Regions from separate parts of the Homo sapiens genome. Here region 2 is linked to region 1. Evidence: fine-mapped expression QTL. A gene starts in region 1. The other region holds a variant in brackets. All regions are shown on one strand. Distances are from middle to middle.

Region 1 (5,379 bases):
TTTAAATGAGTGAATCATATGATATATTAATTATATCTCAATAAAGCTGTTTAAAAAAGAATTCTGAGTGGAATTGGCCAGATACAAAAAAGACTAAGATGGCAAATTTTATGATATCTTACTCCAATTTTTTAGAAACATAATTCAGATCACGTTTCCCTAACAACTCTCCAACAGCTTCCCATCTCCCTCAGAATGAAAGCCCCAATTTTCAATATAGCCCATAAAGTCCTACACATTCTGGCCCCTTTCCCTTTCTGGCCTGACCTCTGACCTCCTCTCCGCTCTGCTCCAGCTCACTAGGCCTCTTAAGTTGCTCTCTGAACATAAAGAGGCAGGTTCCCCCAGGGCCTTTGTACTTTCTTCTCCTCCAGAGAACGTCAAGGTAAGTTCTCTCACTTCCTTGAGCTCTGGACTCAAAAATTCCCTTCTCAGCGAGGACGTCCCTGACCACTTATTGTAAAACTGCAGCTCCCTACAGCCCCCCACCCACAACACACACACACACTCTTCATCCCCCTTTCCTTTTTAATCTCTATTTTCACCTTCTGTCATCCTATAATTTTACTTTTTGCCTGTCTCTTTCCACTAAAATGTAAGCTCCAAAAGGAGAGAGATGTTTGTCTGTTTTGTTCATTGTTGGTATCTCTAGTGCCTAGAGCAGTCCTTAATAAACATTTGTTGGATTAATAAAGGGAGACCACTGTGGGGGAAAAAAAATAAAAGAAAATAAAATTTTAGCTGAAGAATGCAAGCCCCTTTAAATTATCAGGCCCAGAGAGGCATTAGAATGAAAAAACAGTCCCGTCTCACTCCCGGTCTGAGCTGGATAATTATCTCTTAAAGCCCACCTGCTATATGGGCTCTAGACTGGAACCAAGAAGCCATAAAATGCCATATGCTGGACACGATAACTCATACCCTATGAGTTACAGTGTACAGCCAATCACTAAGCAATGGTATCTCTGTAAACCAATAACAATTCCTGACCAACTTTGTCTCAGCCCACTCTTCCCCTTCGCCTTTAAAAACCTGCTTGTAACCAAGGCTGAAGGAGCACTCCCCAAGGCAACTGGGAAATGAGTCCTGGGCAGCTGTCCTCATTTTGGCTGAAGTAAACACTTTAAATTATAATTTTGTGCCCCAGCCTCTTCCTTTTAGGTAGACACCACTATTCAATGACATCAAGATCTGAACTGTCCTACTTATCCCAATATCCCACCCCTAAAAAGAAATGTACCGAACCATAAAAAGCCTGAAGTACTCCGACTTACAGACTCCTGTATTAGCATCCTAAGAATTATATTACCCTCTTCAATAGGGAGTAGTATTTTTCATATCAAACCTAGCCTGAGAACAACTGAGATTCAACTAGGAAAAAAAGAAAAGAAAATCCATTAAAGACTGAGTGATTTGAACTCAAAAATATCCATCATCACTTGCTAAATCATAGACAGCAGGTTATTTCCCTCGACTTTGCTGTGCAGACCTGTAGTGGCTCAATTTCTGCCATAATAAAGGCCGTACTAGAAAGAGCAATCCTAACTAAGCGCGCAAGGTAAACATCAAGCTGGGGCCGTCAGGGGCGGGGAAACACTTTCTGAATGGCGGAAGCTCCGAGAGACGCCTTTCCCAGCTGCTCCAGAGGGGAAAGGAAAAGGGAGAAAGTCTGTTTTTCCAGAATCTCCCAAACACAGCCCAGGGGCCTGCTCCGCGGGCCTAAGCGCCTCCACGTGTCTCAGAAGCCTAGCACTATAGATACCCCGGGGCACGGAGCTGGGAAAACGGGAATAGGAAGACACTTTACCCCGAGAAGATCCAGTCCAACAGGTCTTCTTCAGCCGGATGACTGTGGAGCGCCACCACAAGCAGGGCCTGCAACCCAGGCATCCAGGCTAGACACCAAATCAGCAAACTTTATTCCCGCGCTGCCGAGTACAAGCCGGCGCCTCCCCGGCGCACACAGTACACATCAGCTCCGGGAGACCTACCCGACCCGCCCCTCCAGCGCCGTCCCCGCCCCCGTTCCTGCCCCACCCCTTTCCCCGCCCCCGGCCCGGCTCGCCTTTCTCGCGGCGCTGCAACCCTCCCACCACAGCCCATCCAGCCCCGCCCAGCGCGCCGCGGTGCGCATGCGTGGAGGCCCTCGCTGCCGCTGAGCACCTCGGGAAGTGTAGTCTCTTCGCAGGTGCGGCTGGGCAGCTAGAGTCCTGCATCCCGGTGGAATCCGGAGAAGTGAGAACATTCCCGCCGCCCGGTCCTCATTCCCATCTTCCCACCTGTCCAGTCCCCTCGCACTCCCGCTGCACCCCACGCGCCGGGCTTCAGTCAGAGAGTGCACTGAGGAAGAGCGGAGACCCCCTCTTCCCCTCAGCAGGCTGTGCCGGGGGAGGCGGGGTCCACCGCCCGCCCCCCGCCGTCGCTCTCCCCGCCTCCCCTTCCCTCCCCTCCTGGCGGGTGCGGGGCCGGTGTCCGAAGTCAGGCGGCGGCCCCCGCAGCGGCCGCAGGAGGGGCGGCTGCGGTGGGCGCCGCGGGCGATGCCCCTGCCCGGCTGCTCCGGCGGGGGGCAGTGCGAGCGGCGGCGGCGGGGGAGGAGGCGGGGGGCGGCGGCTGCGGCGGCTGCAGCAGAGGGGCCGAGAGCTGGCGGTGGCGGCGGCGGTGGTCGTGAAGGGCATCGGCGGCGGCGGTGATGGCAGAGATGATGTGAGTGCCCGCCGGCTGGAGACCTGGGGCCGCGGAGCGCGGGACGGGCGGCGGCGGCGTGCGGGAGCGGCCCCGGGGGCGGCGGAGGGATGCGGGGAGCGCGGGCAGAGCCGGAGCGGCGGCCGCCAACCGGCCGGCAGTGGCTGGAGCCCCGCGCTGCGGCGCCGGGGGAGCCGGGCCCGGCGTGGGGGTCGCGGGCGGCGGCGGGGCGGTCAGGCCGAGGGGCGTCTGCGATTGTTCTCAACACCCCTCCCCCACCCCATCCCGTGTGTCTGTTTGTTACTTGCAGCTGAAGATGGAAAGAGCCAGGCGAAGGGGAGGCGGCGGCGGCCGCGGCCGCGGAGGCAAGAATGTAGGGGGCTCTGGCCTAAGCAAGAGTAGACTCTATCCCCAGGCCCAGCACTCCCACTACCCCCACTACGCGGCCTCAGCCACCCCTAATCAGGCCGGGGGCGCAGCCGAAATCCAGGAGCTGGCCTCCAAACGAGTGGACATCCAGAAAAAGAGGTTTTACCTAGACGTGAAGCAAAGCTCCCGGGGCCGCTTCCTAAAGATAGCCGAAGTCTGGATAGGGAGAGGCCGGCAGGACAACATCAGAAAGAGTAAACTGACCCTCTCCCTGTCTGTGGCAGCGGAGCTGAAGGACTGTCTAGGGGACTTCATCGAGCACTATGCCCACCTGGGCCTGAAAGGCCACCGGCAAGAGCATGGCCACAGCAAAGAGCAAGGCTCCAGAAGGAGGCAGAAGCACTCGGCACCCTCCCCACCAGTCTCGGTGGGGTCCGAAGAGCATCCTCACAGTGTCCTGAAAACAGACTATATCGAGAGGGACAATAGGAAATATTACCTAGACCTAAAGGAAAATCAGCGGGGTCGCTTCCTACGGATTAGACAAACCATGATGCGGGGGACTGGCATGATAGGTTATTTTGGCCACAGTTTGGGCCAAGAACAGACTATTGTCCTCCCAGCACAAGGAATGATTGAGTTTCGTGATGCCTTGGTTCAGCTGATTGAAGACTATGGCGAAGGAGACATAGAAGAACGAAGAGGTGGAGACGATGACCCGCTTGAACTCCCAGAGGGGACTTCTTTCAGAGTGGACAATAAAAGGTTCTACTTTGATGTGGGCTCTAATAAATATGGAATTTTCCTGAAGGTAAGTGAGGTGAGACCACCTTACCGTAATACTATTACTGTTCCATTCAAAGCTTGGACAAGGTTTGGGGAGAATTTTATCAAGTATGAAGAAGAGATGAGGAAAATTTGCAACAGCCATAAAGAAAAGAGAATGGATGGCAGAAAGGCCAGTGGTGAAGAACAAGAATGCCTCGACTAGAGTGAAATTGAACTCCATCAGGCAAAATTTAAAATCACAAATTGGCTAAAAGTACTGATCCATTATCCTTTGAAGAAGTTTTTCCTCTTTTTTGGCCCGTTGTTATTAGTAATACCTCTAGTAGTTGATACTTCAGGAAGTCTGATTCTCATGTTATGTTACACATAGATCACTATAATTCTTACGGGAATTCCAACCTTCCCAGAGCTAAATAGTTTAGCTGCTTCAACTGCTCCAGACTATTGAAGTATGCAAATCAGCACAAAATGTGACATTCTGACATTCTAAATACCATAACTAAGATTTACATTGCACTATGACATAATCCCGAAAAAAGATACATATACTTAAATAGAAGTGTGACTTTCCCCCAAAAGTATTTCAATTCTACTTCATTAAAAGCTGCTAAGCTTACCTGTAGGGCAGTTACCACAGAAACAGAAATTGACCTCCGGTATATATAAATATTTACTTATAAAAGTACAAGTAGACGTATATTGTCCGTTGAATAACTGAATATACCATCAAAGGATCAAATCTTATTACCTAATTAAACCTTAAAAATATAATGTCATAATATTTCTTAAGAATACTATAGTATTCTATAATTTCAAACTTTGTGGTAACCCTACATTTTATAGTTGCCATATCAAAGCCATGGGAGAGTTTTAATTCGTTATTCTAAGTTTAGTTACAATCCCTTCTTTACCTCTACTTAATGTTCCATATATTTTTATTGACTTTCCAAAGTTTCAGGAATTACTTTTATGTCACATTGAGTGGGAGGCTTCATCCAATGGCTTTGCTATGGAAATCTTGGTGGTGTAGCTTTTCATGCTAATTTAAAGATTGCAAGAGGTTTCTTCCCCAAAATATATCATGGACTCAAGGTGTTATACTTTATGCTTCTTCTTTAACACTCTTTCAGAAGGGTTGGTGTACCAATTAACTGATATAAAAATATACCTGTAATAATATATTTTAGTAGCACTTTTGCAATTGCTACCCTTAAAACCATGTCAACACTTCCAATATAATCCTGAATTTTACAGGTGTTTTAATTCTGGAGGGGGTGGGGATTTTTTTTTTCTAAAAATAATTTAGAATACAAATTTCCAGTCTGAGAAAAATATTATTTGAAGATTGGTTATAAATATATTTGAAAGGAAAATTCAGGCATTTTCCAAGGTGCTCTTTCTGACTTTACACAAGACTCACCCATTTACCTGTATTAAAAATTACTTTCCAGGAAGTGCCACAGCAATTTTTCAACACCTAAGCAATTTTTTAAACAAGTGGATATAGTGTTATATGTGTACCAACCCATCCTGTATTAA
Region 2 (5,379 bases), 61 kb after region 1:
GAAGGCTTTTTAAATATCCAAACATCAGATAAATTCTGTGTGAGGTGATGAATAAGGTATATTGAAGATAAACTGTAATTTAGTTATGTACTTAAATATCTTATTTTGATAGTGTCAAAGTAGGAATTTTTTATTTGCACATTTTGATAGACAGCCATATAATTTACGTTCAGAAAATGATAATTAAAGAGAAAGGCTAAATTAAGTAGAACATATTTTACACTTTATGTATATAAGTAGGACATATTTTATACTTTAAATTTGGTGATATATTTCTCCATTTTGGCAAATTCATAGATATCATGTGTCAAAAGACAAAACTACAAAAATTTCACTTGAATATCTTTTTTTTTTTTTTGAGATGGAGTCTTGCTCTGTTGCCCAAGCTGGAGTGCAGTGGCACCATCTTGGCTCACTGCAAGCTCCACCTCCCAGGTTCATGTCATTCTCCTGCCTCAGCCTCCCAAGTAGCTGGGACTACAGGTGCCCACCACCATGCCCAGCTAATTTTTTTGTATTTTTAGTACAGATAGGGTTTCACCGTGTTTGCCAGCATGGTCTCGATCTCCTGACCTCGTGATCCGCCCGCTTCAGCTTCCCAAAGTGCTGGAATTACAGGCGTGAGCCACTGCACCCGGCCTCACTTGAATATCTTAATTGGCAGCTGCTTCTGAAATCCCAGCACTTTGGGAGGCTGAGGCAGGCAGACTGCTTGAGCCTAGGAGTTCAAAACTAGTCTGGGCAACATGGCAAAACCCTATCTCTACAAAAAATACAAAAATTAGCCAGGTGTGGTAGTGTGTGCCTGTAGTCCCAGCTACTCAGGAGGCTGAGGTGGGAGGATCACTTGAGCCCAGGAGGTGAAGGCTGCAGTGAGCCGTGATTGTGCTACTGCACTCCAGCCTGGGAAACAGAGCAAGATTCTGTAAAAAAAAAAAAAAAATCTTAATTGGCTTATTTGCAATTCTAGAATCCAACAACACTTCATTCAATTAAATAGAATAAATGTTCTAATGATCCAAGCAGACAAGTTTGGTTTTATAGACGGGGCTGAAGAAAACAGAAAGAAAGAACAAAAAGCATATTGGTCATTTCAAAGTTACTTTCCTTGTAAGGCAGGAACAAGAAAACAGAACATTAGAGAAATAACTGGTTAACATCCAGTTACCTCAGTTTACCTTTTGTTGTGAGAATTAAAGCAGAGGGAACTTTATCGTCATCCTGATTAAAACTGACCTGTCTGGAAAATTATGCTGTTACATCTCTCTCCTGATTTCTCAAAAGGTCAGATAACAATTTAATTTGGTTTGGTGATATGGAACCTTGGGCATGAGTGACACCATTTTGATTTTTAATTTGATCTGTTGGGGCTTAGCGCAGGAGCTTAGTCTAAAGCAATAACCTCCTATAATTTCTACTTAACACATGGACAGTTAATAGTTTTAATGTATTCCCAAAGAAAAAAATCGGAAGGACTGAAAAATTGGGTGCTTTAAAAATGAAGAGATTGCTTTTCTTTAATCAAATACCAGAGGTCTGGAAACTCATTTTAGAGTAAAACTATTCAGTTGCCTCATACATAAAGCAGAGTCATGGGTTTTCCATTGTGTAAAAGGAACATGAAAAATAACATGCCAATTGTCAGCTGCTCTTGGGGCACCACGCAGTGGTATCTTTCAACAGTTTGCTCCTAACTCTTCTCAGTTTTTCATAGGTCCCTTCAAGTTTCCTGGTTTTTACCCTCCTTTGACTTTCAGTTGCCTTCCCTCTCTCTATCCGTGAACTACTGTCTTAGCATCAGACACATCTTACCTAGAGAAAGATAATACAAGTAACCAGGCACAGAACACCTAAGCAACTTTTTCTTCAGAAACCTACAGTGACAACCAAATAATTGTTGGCTTTGCTGGACTGTACAGTACATAACTGAGTGAATTCAACTGCTCTAACGAAATACAGTATTCAGGGGAAAAAAAAGGAGTTATTTAAATCTAAGGCATGTGGGGTCTATTATTATTAGGTTTTTAATATCAAGTCACATGTTTTCCTAGGCATTTTGGGAACTCAAGTTTTAGCAAGCATGAGCTCTTCCACAGCATGTCTTATACATGGCTTTGACGTTCACCAACCTGGGTTCAAATTCCAGCTCTTCCTGCATATTAGCTGTGCGATCTTGGACAAATAATTTACCCTAGTCTCATTTCCTCATTGTATTGGATTGGTGCAGAAGTAATCATGGTTTTGCATTACTCTTTTTTTTTTTTTTTTTTTTGAGATGGAGTTTCATTCTTGTCGCCCAGGCTGGAGTGCAATGGCACCATCTCGGTTCACTGTACCCTCCACCTCCCAGGTTCAAGCAATTCTCCTGAGTAGCTCAGCCTCTCAAGTAGCTGGGATTACAGGTGCCCGCCACTACACCTGGCTACTTTTTGTAATTTTAGTAGAGACGGGGTTTCTCACCACGTTGGCCAGGCTGGTCTTGAACTCCTGACCTCAGGTGATTCACCCGCCTTGGCATCCCAAAGTACTGGGATTTACAGGCATGAGCAACCATGCCCAGCCTGCATTACTTTTAATGGCAAAACCACAATTACTTTTACATCAACCTAATACATTGAACACAATATAATGCTCACTTCATTAGCTTATTGTGGGATTAGATGTGGAATAATGGCTGGCACATAGCAAACATTTAAAGAATAATAGCTTCTGTTACCACCAGCAGCACCACTGTCCATCACTGGGCTAGCAGTCTGTTCATTGG[C/T]AAATCTTAAGTTGTTCCAGCCGATGCAAAAACAATTATTCATTGTAGTCAATTCATTAACAAATATTTTTTAGAAACGGGCAAACACCAGTTGTCTGTTAGTTTTTTTTTCCCCTGCTACTGTTCGGCAGACTATTTTTGGCATTACAGAGGAATAGCAATGAAAATGAACTTTTCTTTCCTTCCCCCCAGTGTTTTCTCTCTTTGTGAAAATTGCTGCCAGCATGAATAGTCACTTAAACAGCAAGGGATGGTTCTTGTGTCTCAGGCAATGCCTGCCTGTTCTGGACATTATTGGCCCACTGATTAGATAGCGGTAAAAACAGGTCAGCGTAAAAGTTTAGCATTTGCATTTGAGGTTTCCTTTCTCATTCTCATCACTATATGGCAGAAAGTTGTTGGAGTGAAGGAAATTTATTCATTAAAAATTGCTTCTGTCTTTAATTTCTGCCCATTTGTACCTTGATAGGATAATTTCAAACAAACTTTGCTTTTTCTGTGAAGATGAAGCAAATTTGTTGTGGTCTTTGACTTGTATGTCATATTTGACCTGTATGACCTGTATGTCCTACTTGCACAAAATCCAGGCTACATCTTCCATGTTGTTGTTGTTGTTGTTGTTGTTGTTGTTGTTGTTGTTGTAGAGTCTCACTCTGTCGGCCAGGCTGGAGTGCAGTGGCACAATCTCGGCTCACTGCAACCTCCACCTCCCTGGTTAAAGCGATTCTCCTGCCTCAGCCTCCTGAGTAGCTGGGATTACAGGTGTGCACCACCATGCCTGGCCAATTTTTATACTTTTAGTAGAGATAGGGTTTCGCTATGTTGGCCAGAGTGGTCTTGAGCTCCTGGCCTCAGGTGAGCCGCCCACCTTGGCCTCCCAAAGTGTTGAGATTACAGGCATAAGCCACCACGCCCGGCCCCATCTTGTTTTTAAATTTAAAGAATGCCATTCTTTGTGTGTTGTATGTTATAAACAATGTTCCACGTTAGGGTGAGGGAATAGCAGCCATTCTGAAGAATGATGCTTTTAATCCCAGACATGAGCTTCTTGACCACAGAACTTCCTGCATTTTCAAGCTTGTGGAAGTAAGAGTGAATGCCCTTCCTTGGGAAATCTCACCTTATGTCTTTATTCCTCACTTCTCTGCATCTTTTCACCAAAAGCAAAATCTCAGCTTGATGAATTTCTCACTTGGAAACTGTTCATTTACAATATTTGCAACTTGTTTTTAGGATCAGCTTGTTGATTTTTCACTACTGTGCCCCTGACACCTACCACATAAGTATTTGTTACATGAAAATAATAATGCTGAACGATTTATTATGTTTTAAAGAAAGATATGTAAAATGTAGGCATTTGATCAAGGAGAATTCTGAGAGAGAAATTACTTGAGTACTTGTAAGTAAGACAACACAATCTTGCAAATTACCATTCTTCTACTTGCTTCGGTGAAGTGATGATTTATTAAAGACAAATGTAAGAGGTTCAATTAGTAGCTATGCTAAGCGCTTGCTAAAATAGGAGATGACTCCCTTTTTTTGGACTGGGCCTAATTTGGATTCTTTAAAATAAATTATAGAAAAATTTTTAAAATGCTGAAAGACTCGGAGACTAGTAAAAAAAAAATTGTACCTATTTATTCTCTAACCGAAAAAAAAATTAACCAACGTTTAGATATTATCACATTATTTTAGCTTTCTGCCTAAGGGAATCTTTACTTTTTTCACTTGTTCAGTTAGATGTAGCTCTCTCTACGTTCCATCAAAAAGACAAAAACAGTTTTGTTTTGTTTTGTTTTGTTTTGTTTTGTTTTGTTTTGTTTTGTTTTGTTTTGTTTGAGATGGAATCCTGCTCTGTTGCCCAGGCTGGAGTGCAGTGGTGCAATCTGGGCTTGCTGCAATCTCTGCCTCCTGGGTTCAAGCGATTCTCCTGCCTCGGCCTCCCGAGTAGCTGGGACTACAGGTGCCTACCACCACGCCTGGCTAATTTTTTTGTGTTTTTAGTAGACACAGGGTTTCACCATGTTGGCCAGGCTGGTCTCGAACTCCTGGCCTCAAGTGATCCACACCCCTCCCCCAGCCTCCCAAAGTGCTGGGATTACAGGTGTGAGCCACTGCACCTGGCCTAGTTTAACAAATTTATTGGCTGTATATTGAGTTTTTTCCCAAGAGAATTTATCAATGGATAGACAAATTGTAGTTTGCTATGCAATGGTATAATATGCTGAATGGAATACTTACTCAGGAGTGAAAAAGACCAAATTACTGATTGAGAAATTACTTGCTCTGGCAACATCCCCCTCAAAGGACTGTTATGACAGTTTGACCACAAAAAAAACATTGTTCCAGGCGATGGCTAGCCACAGAAAGCCCTCCGCTCCCAATACTGAACACTCTTTTCTCTTTTTTCTGACACAGGGTCTCACTCTGTCACCCAGTCTGGAGTGCAGAGGTGTGATCAGAGCTCACTGCAGCCTGAAATTCCTGAGCTCAAACAATCCTCTTGCCTCAGCCTCCCAAGTACCTAGGACTACAGGTGCATCACCATGCCTGGCTAATTTTAAAATTTTATGTGGAGACAGGATCTCACTGTGTTGTCCAGGCTGCTCCCAGCT

Alleles and levels. Alleles are on the strand shown, and positions count from the first base shown. SD is a standard deviation of normalised expression in the study named.
As copies of C replace T in region 2, the expression in caudate of the gene that starts at base 2,425 in region 1 goes up (small effect, 0.24 SD a copy in GTEx).

Evidence for each region. PIP is the estimated chance that this variant, and not a neighbour inherited with it, causes the effect.
Region 2: its variant is the best candidate, but not a certain one, in a credible set for the expression of PURG in caudate (GTEx, PIP 0.61).

Annotation. Positions count from the first base shown.
Region 1 is chr8:31,030,402-31,035,780 of GRCh38, reverse strand. It overlaps PURG (purine rich element binding protein G), which reads left to right and starts at 2,425. Exons shown (of 2, transcript NM_001323311.2): 1 at 2,425-2,703; 2 at 2,993-4,931. The coding sequence starts at 2,999. The coding sequence ends at 4,042. It overlaps WRN (WRN RecQ like helicase), which reads right to left and starts at 1,971. Exons shown (of 35, transcript NM_000553.6): 1 at 1,808-1,971. RefSeq lists enhancers at 814-863, 1,697-2,218 and silencers at 934-1,003, 1,974-2,233, 2,394-2,443.
Region 2 is chr8:30,969,559-30,974,937 of GRCh38, reverse strand. No RefSeq gene overlaps it. Among named protein-coding and RNA genes, the nearest start is that of TEX15, 59 kb to the right of the region's middle. The variant C/T (reference allele first, on the strand shown) is at 2,765.